Homo sapiens: one gene and its partners. The main gene of each other region encodes a partner of the protein of the gene in region 2 in a complex. Each region holds a gene or a part of one and is shown on either strand. Other genes may lie near its edges.

Region 1 (3,648 bases), on a different chromosome or scaffold from region 2:
CTTGGTAAGCATTAATTTAAAACTTGAAATGTTCCCACAATGTATTCAGATACCAACAGAGCGCAGAACAGAAAAGGTTTCTTTTGCTGACGAAGAACCCTCAAGAAACACAATGGAAGGTCTCTAGAGTCAACAATGTTGTTCCCTGGGTGCGCATAAAGTGACTGGTAACCACCAATTTGGGATGTTTCACAGTTTGTACCAAGCAAAGGCATATCTCAGTTTATTTCCCCTAATTTAAACCTTGCAAACCAGGGAGCCATTTAGGATTAAGAAACTCCATAGTCACCCTCAGGAGGCAGGTTATTTTTCCCAAAGCATTTGGCACTTATATTTTTTATAATTTCCACTGCAAAAACATGAATTATGGGAAATGACTGCTACAAACTACTCCGACGACAGTGGCTGATTCTACGCGATGAGACATGGATAATAGAGTGCAACTTCTATTTCCTGCACTCACACCACCCACAAGATTCCATTAATGATAATCAGCTGAGCTAAGGCATTAAAAGGCACAGAAAGGTGGCTTGGGTGTGGTCCACTTCCTGCAGGTAAGGAGCTTCCACAAGGGCAGCTCTGAATCATCGGGAGTAATCGCCCAAATAAAGAGCTAAGGGGCCCGTTTCTCAGGAGACCATCGGACGCCTGGACTGCGGCTTTAGAGTGTGTGTAACCGCACAAGCACAGCAGAAAGTAGCAGTGACCATCGACAGGCTCCTCCCTTCAGTAACTGCTCACCCTGCATCTTGCACCAGGGTCCTGGAAAAATACTGAACTGAAAATGAAACTCAACCTGCACCACATTAGGCAGCTCAGCTCTACGCATCAGACCGTAGCTCCAAGAAGAGCATCAAAGTCAGAAAGAGGGTGGGAAAGCAATGATGCCAGCCGCCACCTGCCCATAACTGCTCAGCACAGTTAGCAAGCTAGAAAATCTCATCTGACCAATTCCTACTTGAAGGTCACTTGCTTTTATGTGACATGCTATCAAGAATACTCCCAGATCTGAGACTGGACTCCTCCAAAAGTTTGGGTTTTTCTAATTTAAAAAAACCTTGTGACCATCCTCCCCCTCAAAAAAGAACACTTTCAAGCAAAACAAATTCTTACCATTGTTACATTTTGGAACACGGAGTATTCAAAATAGGTTTTTTGTTTTTTTGACACTTACATAGGCAACTAACTAACAAAACAGTAACTAACAGTAACTGAGTACTTATTACTCTTTAGCACTGATCAGCAAAAAGGATCATAAAGCAAGAGGAGTAATGAGATACTATAAAATGTTCACTGAGAGTTCAAGCCACGAAGCTGAGTGAATGCTAAAAAAATCCACTTAGGCTGTCCTACTGACACCTGGGCTCCCCACTCGCATCCCTGGGCTTCCTCTTCCCTGAAGTGCTGCAATGCCTTCTAAAGGGGCACCCAGCACTCCCCACACCTGAGAAAGCAGGAGCCCCAAAGAACAGGAGATCATCTGCTCAAAAATGTGCCATACTTCCGGCTGTCTACAGATGCAAGGCCTCCCCCAGGCCCACAGGCACCCCACTGCCTCTTCAGCTCCAGGACCGATCTAGATCTAGCCCACCAGAAGCTGTGTCACCGCTTTCCAACCATGTGCCTTTGCTCACTGTGTCCTCAGTCACTGCAACCTTCTTAGAGCACATGCCCCAAAGCAGGCAGCCGACCTCTTGAGGACAGGATGGACTGAGGCTCTGAACTCTGCCTCCAACGACTCCGGGCACTATACTCTGCAGGCTCCCCTGTGCAGTCCAATGCTGTCAGTCACCAGAGCACACTCCACAGTTCAGCAAGTCCCCAAGGTGCTCTCCGAACCCACGTCTCGGATGTCCTGACTGTCCACACCCAGTGACACACCAACCTTCCCCCAGGGTGCAGATGGTAACAGGGTAACTGGGCAGGCACCTCCCAAGGAAGGAACGGAAAAGAACCCGTGGAAATGTGACACTAACAAGAAAAAAAAGTACAAGAGCACTTAAGCCACAATTAAATGCAGCTGTCCTGTGTTTGCCTTCATTTCCCAGACTCCCAGAGTGCACAGGCTTCCCTAGGGTGGAGCAGAGCACTTGAGAAAAGCTCCCCATGTTCCCAGACTGGCCATTAGACACCAGTCTCACTATCCTGATGCAAGGGGCATTCTCAGCAAAGGTCTATTTATCCAAGCAGCAAGAAAAACAGAAGGGGAACGAGGGGGACAGGATGATGTTAACAAGACAAACTTCAGGTTTTTAAGCTATTCCTCTAAATTATCTGTATTTTCAAATATGAAACTATGTTAAACTTACAACTTCAAAACATGGTAAATTAACCAGGCCCTGCAATATGCAATACATGTGACGTATATAATTCAGTATTTTTCAAACTGTGGGTCAGGAATCAGTGGGCTGTGAAATCAATCTAGTGTTGCAACCAGCTCCTTTTTTAAATATACCACAACAGCACATCACAAGCACAGGCTGAGCATCCCTGATCCAAAATGCTCCAAAATATGAAACTTTTCAGCGCCAACATGACACTCAAAGGAAATGCTCATTGGGAGCACTTCTGATTTCGGATGTTCAACAAGCATATAATGCAAATATTCCAAAATTCGAAACACTTGTGGTCCCAAGCATTTTGGATGAGGGATACTCAACCCGTAGTAAGGATTAGTACGGTCTCCTGAAACTTGTTTTTGATCCTGATGTAAAATATATTTCTTACATGGGTCACGGTTCAGAAAAGTTGAAAAGTGACTGATAAAATTTTGTAACAGAAATGTGCAAACCAAAATCTCATTTTTAAATCACATTTCTGCAAACTCAAAGCCGATTGGTGTTCCTGCCTCCATCTGAAGCTTTTCTTTTAATCTCAATTGAGTGAAACAACAAATGCTCAATGAAAGACGGAGTACTTATAGCCACAGATCAGCCTGATTTCTTTATGTTTATTCGTCACTATATTCATTCAGTTTCTGATGTCTATTTTTTTCCCCTACTGAAATATAAAACTGGGGTTTAAGAGAAAAAAAGCAAAGGCTTCAGCAACTTTCATTAAACATTTACTTTAAATGGTAACCTCATTCAGATCTACCACTTTCAACCCCTCCCCTAGGACCTGGCACATGAAAGTTCAATAAGGGTTGCTGATTGAATAAATTAAAAAATCAGCCTCCTATTTCTAATTTCTTTAGCCAATCTAACTAGCAATGAGATAAACTTTAATGTTTGCAAAAGTAACCATAAAACAGTAACACTGCATGATGAGTGGGAGTAGGAGGAGTAGTAGTTTCCAATCACAAATTTGCCACATAATATATGATCTCACCTTGGTCAGTTAAGTCTTCCTTGGTCTCCACATCTACAAAATGGTATAATATCATCTACATCTCAAACGGTACCGGTAAGAATCAAGAGGCATAAAAATGATTTGCAAAACATTGAAAAATGGTGTTTATACTAACATGGTTGTTATTTTTCAAGCATCCTTGCCTAGGCCACCTGAATTCACTCTGCTTTATTTTTTTATTTTATTTTTTTTTTTGAGACGGAGTCTGCCTCTGTCGCCCAGGCTGGGGTGCAACGGCACAATCTCAGCTCAACGCAACCTCCGCCTCCCGGGTTCAAGTGATTCTCCTGCCTCAGC
Region 2 (3,648 bases):
TGTTTCTTCCCAAATAGCATTATGTAAAGAAACTTGATAGTTACCATTAAATTCGGATATCTCAGCCTTCATCTGGGCATATGTGTATAATTTGTGCGTATGGACACACAGAAAATTGTATACAAATAGATCGTTTCATACATTTTACACAAAACAGGGCTTAACATGAGCATGATGAGGTTTGGGGGCCAGCCTAGAAGGGGTTCCTTGAATTTCACAAAATTATCTGTAGCCCCTGCCTGGTATTTGTCAGGTGGAACTTCTGAGCAGTGAATTCATAGCTTTCAGTAGCTTCTCAGAGGACTTAGGAGCAGAAGACATTATTTTTATGAAACCGCAAGGCTTCAACAAGGGCCCCCAGGGTCTGCAACTGAGGTTGGGACTCAGGCTTGCTGTGGAGCTGGGCTGGGACCCAGGGATCCTTCTCCTACCTGGCCAGGGTCTCCCAACAGAACATTCTCAGTGAGGAAAGTCCCAGTCAAGCCACGCTTCCTTTTGGGAAGCAGTTCCCTGTGACCGATGTGCCTGACGTTCATGTCAGCCAGCAGACACATCCTGGGGCTGTCTGGGCCAGGCAGTGCTGGAAACCAGAGAAGAGTTAGATCAGAATAGCTTGTGCTTGCTCGTTGCCTGCAGTGCACATCCCAAGAGCCTTACACAGTTGTATACTGATGTTAGCTGTATTGCCCAGATGAGGAAACTGAGGCACAGGCAGATTTAAGTGAATTGTCCGAGCTGGGAAGAGGCAGAGTCCAGATTCGATCCCAGGCCCCTAATTCTTAGCCACTCCTATGTGCTATCCTCAGAGGGCTCCTGGTTGCTTTCAGAGCTGTAAACAAGGGAGGCAGGGGGGTCCTTAAACCCAGGGAAGGCGCCTAACCTGCTTAGGTGGGATGGGAAGTTGTCAGGGAAGGCTTCCTGGAGGAGGTGGCTGTTAACCTGGATTTTGACAGGTTATAAGAAATAGAAAATGGCTTTGTGTAGTTTCTTCATTCCACAAACATTGAGCAAGGTCTCTAGGCTATGGAAACCCAGAGATGTGTCAGACCCACTCCCGGCCCTTGCTCTCAGCAGTGGTGAAATGGAATTAATTACAGAGACTCCTGTAGCTGCAGTGTAAGGATTGTTTTTTTGTTTGTTTTGTTTTTTTCCCGAGATGGAGTTTCACTCTTGCTGCACAGGCTGGAGTGCAGTGGCGGGATCTCGGCTCACTGCAACCTCTGCCTCCCAGGTTCAGGTGATTCTCCTGCCTCAGCCTCACGAGTAGCTGAGATTACAGGCGTGTGCCACCGCACCCAGCTAATTTTTGCATTTTTAGTAGAGACGGGGTTTCACTTTGTTGGTCAGATTAGTCTCGGAATCCTGACCTCAGGTGATCCACCCACCCCGGCCTCCCAAAGTGCTAGGATTACAGGTGTGAGCCACCGTGCCTGGGTGTGAGGGTTGTTTCTGTGTCAGCAGCTCTTTTTATTTTTATTTTTCTTTGAGACAGAGTCTCGCTCTGTCACCCAGGCTGGAGTGCAGTGTTGTAATCTCAGCTCACTGCAGCCTCTGCCTCCCGGGTTCAAGTGATTCTCAAGCCTCAGCCTCCCAAGTAGCTGGGATTACAGGCACCCATCACCATGCCTGGCTAATTTTTGTATTTTTTGTAGAGACAGGGTTTCACCATGTTGGCCAGGCTGGTCTAGAACTCCTGGCCTCAAATGATCACCTGCCTTGGCCTCCCAAAGTTCTGGGATTACAGGCGTGAGCCACCGCATCCGGCCAGCAGTTCCTAACTCTTTTGGAATTATGGATCCCTTTGAGAATCTGTTAAATTCTGGACCCTCTTCTTATAAAAGTACACAGGATTTTAGGCGGTTCACACTCTTCCCTACCCTGTGTGGTCTCCAGGTTTGAGAACCCTTGCCCCCAGACTTCACAGAGAGGCTTCACAGTAGTGAGTCTTCACTGTGCAAAGGCATCAATTGCAGTTTCTTAAATGTGTACCTTCCTGGGCCCTGCCTCCAGATATTCTGATTGTTTTGGTCCATGCTGGGATAGGCCTCCGGGTGATTCTGCTGCAGGGTGGTCAGGGATCATCCTTTGAGAACTACTTCCTGCAGTAACCTACAGGAGAAGAGAACCTTGGCTTACATAATTACTGCTCAGCCTCTGTCCCAGGCCTCCTTATAACAGATTGCCGTAAGTTCCACCGGTAGTCACTTGGCAAGTGTTGATTGAGTACCTTCTCTGTGCCAGCCCAGGTGGTGGGAGAACTGAGGTGAACAAGAGGAACTCTGTCCCTGCAGTATCCCAGTCACACCGCACCTATGGTCACACTCCCATGATACTGTCCTGAACTTGAGACGTCACGATAGCATGAGGACCTGTGACAGTGACATTATGCTGGCTTGCTTAGTATTACATTTTTCCTTTGAATCATTCATTGCAACTATTTTTAAATGCTATTTTTAAACATTTGTTTTTATTCTTAGTTTTACTGTAAAAATATACATAGAATGTGCTATTTTAATTATTTTAAAGTGTGTAGCTCTGTGGCGGTAGGTTTATTCACATTGTGCAGCCATTATCACCCTCCATCTCCAGAATTTTTCACCTCCTCAAACTGAAATTCCAAACCCATTGGACATGAGCTCCCCCTTCCCTCTCCCCCAGCCCCTGGCAGCCACCGTAGGAGTTTGACTGTTCTAGATTCCTCATATAAGTGGAATCAGAAAATATTTGTCTTTATGACTATTAGCTAATTTCCCTTGGCATAACATCTTCAAGGTTCATCCATGTTGTAGCATGTGTTACATGAGACTTCTCACATACAAGATTCTTGAGTTTTTTTGAGGGCTGCATTTGGAAAACCAGATTTGCTTATTGCCAGCTGCATTCTCCCATAGTGACAGTCCTTGGAGCTGGGGAGCACCTGCCCTCCCTGGGCTACATGCCCTCCAGGGTGCCACAGTGCCTGCCTCTTCCTATTCATGCCTCCTGCCACCCCTGCCTGTCACCTTGGCTGATGGCATCATTCTGTTACTTGACTGAGCCCTGGAGGCATTTCCATTTATGATTTTTTTTTTCCTGCTTTAAATACCTGTCAGCCCAAGTTGAATTTCAGATCAGAGACCTCCACACCTTTATTTGAACATATTGGGATAAGTTGAGTCTCCCTTCAGTAGGTCACTAATTAAGAGTTCCTGTCTTGTGCTAAGAGTGCTGCTGGGCTCTGGGGATACAGTGGAGAGCCAGTCGTATGTATCTGAAGGAGCACAGTCATTCTAGGCCCACAGTAACAACCAGCGAGCAGTCCCGAGCCCCATAGTCCCCCAGAAACATGAGATCCCAATTCAGTCACCAGAGCTGTGTGTAACTGTTCATGGGAAGCTTAGGTCAGGTTTTCGATCCTGACCTGTAGCTATTACTAGCTTGGGCAAGCCAGGCTGTACCTCAGTTTTCTCTTCTTTTTTTTTTTTTTTTTTTTCTTTTTGAGACGGAGTCTCGCTGTGTTGCCCAGGCTGGAGTGCAGTGGTGCGATCTCGGCTTACTGCAGCCTCTGCCTCCCGGGTTCAAGGATTCTTCTGCCTCAGCCTCCCGAGTAGCTGGGATTACAGGTGCGCACCACCACACCCAGCTAATTTTTTTGTATTTTTAGTAGAA
Region 3 (3,648 bases), 5.5 Mb from region 2:
CCTGGATGTCGAGGGGGGCTGGGCGAGGGCACTCCGGTCCCCGACCGCAGCGCTGGTTCTGCACAAGCAGCCCCTGGGCCCTGTTTTGGGGCGGGGGAAGAGGAATAACAAACATGAACACATTCCGCCACTCTACCAAGAGGGCCCGACGGGGCGGCCCTGACGCGCTCTCCCCACTCAGCCCCGCCAGTGCCCTGGCTGTGAGGGCCGGGGGCCCTCCACTGGGACCCAACTTCCTTCCTGCTCAGGGCCTGAGGGTGCAGGGGAGTCATCTGAGCTGACTGACAAGGGGTCGCCAAAGCCCCAGGAGGAAGTGGGGCCCAGAAGACACTGAGACCAATTCCATGAGCTGATGTCAGCCCCCTTACCGCTGCTGCCCCGGGACTCCAGCGTGAGGAGGGCACTGCCAACCTCCATGTCATACAAGACGGTGTCGCCAGAGCGGAAGGAGGCCACGATGTGGGCAGGCTCGGTGCTGGTGAAGGCCACTGAGGTGGGGACCCCGTGCTCTGAGGGCACAGGGAAGAGAAGGCTGCTGAATGGACCCTCAGACCCAGCCCTGCCCCAGGGTGGGGGACAGTGGGTGGGAGGCCTGGGGCCTCAGCAGGAACCACTCTGATAGCCTCCAGATCCCGCACAGCTCCAGGGTGAGGCACCGGGGCCCCCACTCACCGCTGGCTGTGGGGAAGGTGCAGAGGCAGGCCGGGCTGCTGCTGCTGGGGTCCCAGATGCGGACGGTGCCATCAGCAGAACAGGAGGCCAGGCGCTGGGAGGTGGGACTGAAGGCCAGGCCCCACACGGCGTCCCCGTGGCCCTCCAGGACGTGGCTCAGCACGCTTGGGTCTGCACCCACCGCAGGGAGGAAATGGGCTGTGTCAGGGCTGCCAGCTCCTCCCTGGACAGCCCAGAGCCCCAGCTCTGCCAAGCCCCAGGCAGCTGGGCTCCAATCACCCACGCACCCACTTCACACCTGGTGCCCCTCGGAACTGTCCACTGCCAGGACAGCCCGGCAGCTGCTCACACTGCCCACTAGCTCTCCAAGGAAGGTTCTAGGGCTCCAGAAGGCAGGGATTTCCCTCTATTCACAGCTGTCTCCCCAAGCAGGGCCCAGAAACTGGGAGCTCAATACAGAATTTTTCGGGCTCCATTAAGGAAGAAGGAACAGCATGGTTCTGTGGCCCCAGGAGCGGCACGCAGCCTGTGCTGGACAAGGGTTGGTCCCAACCCTGGCCCGAGCAGTCTTTTCAGCCCATGGCCAAGTGCATGGGCTTTGCCTGGTCTCTCCAAAGCCCCCTGGTCATTCAGAGGTCCAATCACTGCTTCCCTGGTTGCTGGAGTCCACACCAGCAGCTCTGGCCTGCTGACACCGAAAGTGTGGTGGCTAATGTAGCTGGGACCGATCCTGACCTTGTGCAGGTGAGCCTGTTCTCTAAAGTCTGTCCTCCCCTTGAGAGGAGACAAAGACCTCTGAACTCTGCCCAGACAAGGTGGAGCACAGGGCCAGGTGCATGATCAAGGAGGCAGAGCCGGGCGCAGTGGCTCATGCCTGCAATCCCAGCACTTTGGGAGGCCAAGGTGGGTGGATCACCTGAGGTCCGGAGTTCAAGACCAGCCTGGTCAACGTGGTGCAACCCTGTCTCTACCAAAAATACAAAAAATAGCTGGATATGGTGGTGCGTGCCTGTAATCCCAGCTACTCGGGAGGCTGAGGCACGAGAATCACTTGAACCCAGGAGGTAGAGGTTGCAGTAAGCCAAGATCACGCCACTGCATTCCAGCCTGGGTGACAGAGTGAGACTCTTTGTCTCAAAAAAAAAAAAAAAAAAAAAAAAAAGGCAGAGAACAGGGGGACAGATGTTGAACAGAAGTGACAGTCTGGTCACTTCCCTACTTAGGTCTTAGATGCTCCAAAGAGAAAGCCCCAACGCGCTCCAGCCTGGCCCAGCTAACTCCACCTTCTCTGCTTTCTCTGGACATGCCCTCCCCTCAACCACGCAGAGACCCTGGCGGATCCCCACACACAGAGTACACGGCATGGCAGAGCAGAGGCTGCCAGGGCCAGCCACGCCTGTGCATGGGCTGCTCCCAGCCTGGGCTGCCTCAGCACTGCCTTCTGGACGCCGGCTCACAGAGATTCTCAGGCAGCTTCACCACCTCCTCCCACAGCCATCATTCCCATCCCGGCTGGCTCGTCCCTTGGCCACGCGCTGCATCGCGCTGCTCACAACAGAGCAGACAGGGGAGCCGTCACACGCACTCCTGAGGCCTGCAGTGTTGGCAAGAGGTGGACGCGACGTGTGTGTGCGTGGAGGGGACGGCCAGGCCCCAGTGGATGTGAGGGGAAGGCGGGAGGCGTTGTCCTCACCGTAGCCATCATAGGGATCCATGCTGAGGTCTGGAATCTTCCAACTATGGATGCAGGCATCTGCCCCGCCACTGTAGCAGTATTCACTGTTGCTGCCCATAGCCACAGCCAACACTGGGCCCCTGGAAGGGACAAATATGTGGAAAGGGGGATGAGACAAGCTCAGGGCCTCCCCTGGCCACAGGACCTAAGTTCCCTACTAGCATTCTTCAAGGATGGCCAAAAGGAATTCAGTGACTGGGGCTCTGGCCATGCTACCTGGACAAGCTGCCTGTCCCCTGCCCTCCCCCACCCCACCTCCATCTCCTCCCCTGAAGGGCTGTGCTGAGTACCAGCTGCCAGGGCATGTGAAAGTCAGCATGGAGCCCCAAGAACCAGGGCTGTGTATATCATGAAGGGGGCGGGGACTCAGAGCCCCCTGCTGTCCTGCCTCCTGCCGTGGGCCTCCCGCGATGGCAGTGAGCAGGTCAGGAGTCAGGCTGCATTTAGGACGAGTTTCTAGCAGGCTCAGGGGCACCTCCCTACCTGTGAGCCCGGAAAGCATGTATAGGTTCCACATCTAGCGCCGCATTCCTGTGGGATGACAGAGGAGCCTGATGTCACTGAGACCCTGTCACCCCCGTCCCCAGATGCCCCTGCCCCCGGCTCTGAGCTTGCTGCCCTCACTTCTTGGCCGTGACCGCCTTCTGCAGGTTCCAGAGCTTGAGCGTGCCGTCCTCGGAGGCGGTGAGCAGAGCCGACTGGCTGTGGTGGAAGGCCAGGGAACGAATGCCGTCGTAGTGCGAGCGCAGGGTGAACTTGGGGTTCCACGTCTTCTTAAAAGCATCTTTGCTGTCAGACAGCTGGGGTTGGGGGGAGCTGCCTCAGTGTCTTCGCATCCATCCCAGCAGTCATGCAGACACCGACACCCAGGGCTTGAGGGCCCCTGTCTTCCACCCACATGACCCTGGCAGGAATGCCCTCAGAGCCTGGGCTCCAGCCGGGAACTCTCCCCTTCCTCTGCTGGGCAGAGTCTCCATGCTCGCCCAACAAGTCCCCACACTGCGCTGGGTTCTGGAGAGACAAAGGTGAGCCTGACCCCTTGGGGTCTTGCAGTTGAGAGGAAGGGGAATGGGGGACACAACTGGACCATCCCACAAGTGTGCAGGATCATCAGCCATGAGCAGGGCAATGAATTAAAGATGCACAGAGAGACATCAGGCAGCCTGCCCTCCTCCCTGGGGGCCACTGAGGCTTTCCTGAGGAAGCACGAGCCAGCAGGACTTCACAAGATAAGGAGAGGG

The links.
Region 1: PPP2R1A (region 2) and STK24 share a complex: the UniProt entries of both Homo sapiens proteins name them as parts of the core of STRIPAK complex.
Region 3: PPP2R1A (region 2) and STRN4 share a complex: the UniProt entries of both Homo sapiens proteins name them as parts of the core of STRIPAK complex.

The regions. Positions count from the first base shown.
Region 1 is NC_000013.11:98,570,484-98,574,131, forward strand, and holds part of STK24 (serine/threonine-protein kinase 24 isoform b precursor), read right to left. Parts: intron 1-3,648. UniProt on the Homo sapiens protein: Serine/threonine-protein kinase that acts on both serine and threonine residues and promotes apoptosis in response to stress stimuli and caspase activation.
Region 2 is NC_000019.10:52,207,033-52,210,680, forward strand, and holds part of PPP2R1A (serine/threonine-protein phosphatase 2A 65 kDa regulatory subunit A alpha isoform), read left to right. Parts: intron 1-3,648. UniProt on the Homo sapiens protein: The PR65 subunit of protein phosphatase 2A serves as a scaffolding molecule to coordinate the assembly of the catalytic subunit and a variable regulatory B subunit.
Region 3 is NC_000019.10:46,722,442-46,726,089, forward strand, and holds part of STRN4 (striatin-4), read right to left. Parts: intron 3,208-3,648; coding exon 3,032-3,207; intron 2,939-3,031; coding exon 2,891-2,938; intron 2,488-2,890; coding exon 2,366-2,487; intron 844-2,365; coding exon 673-843; intron 510-672; coding exon 369-509; intron 1-368. UniProt on the Homo sapiens protein: Calmodulin-binding scaffolding protein which is the center of the striatin-interacting phosphatase and kinase (STRIPAK) complexes.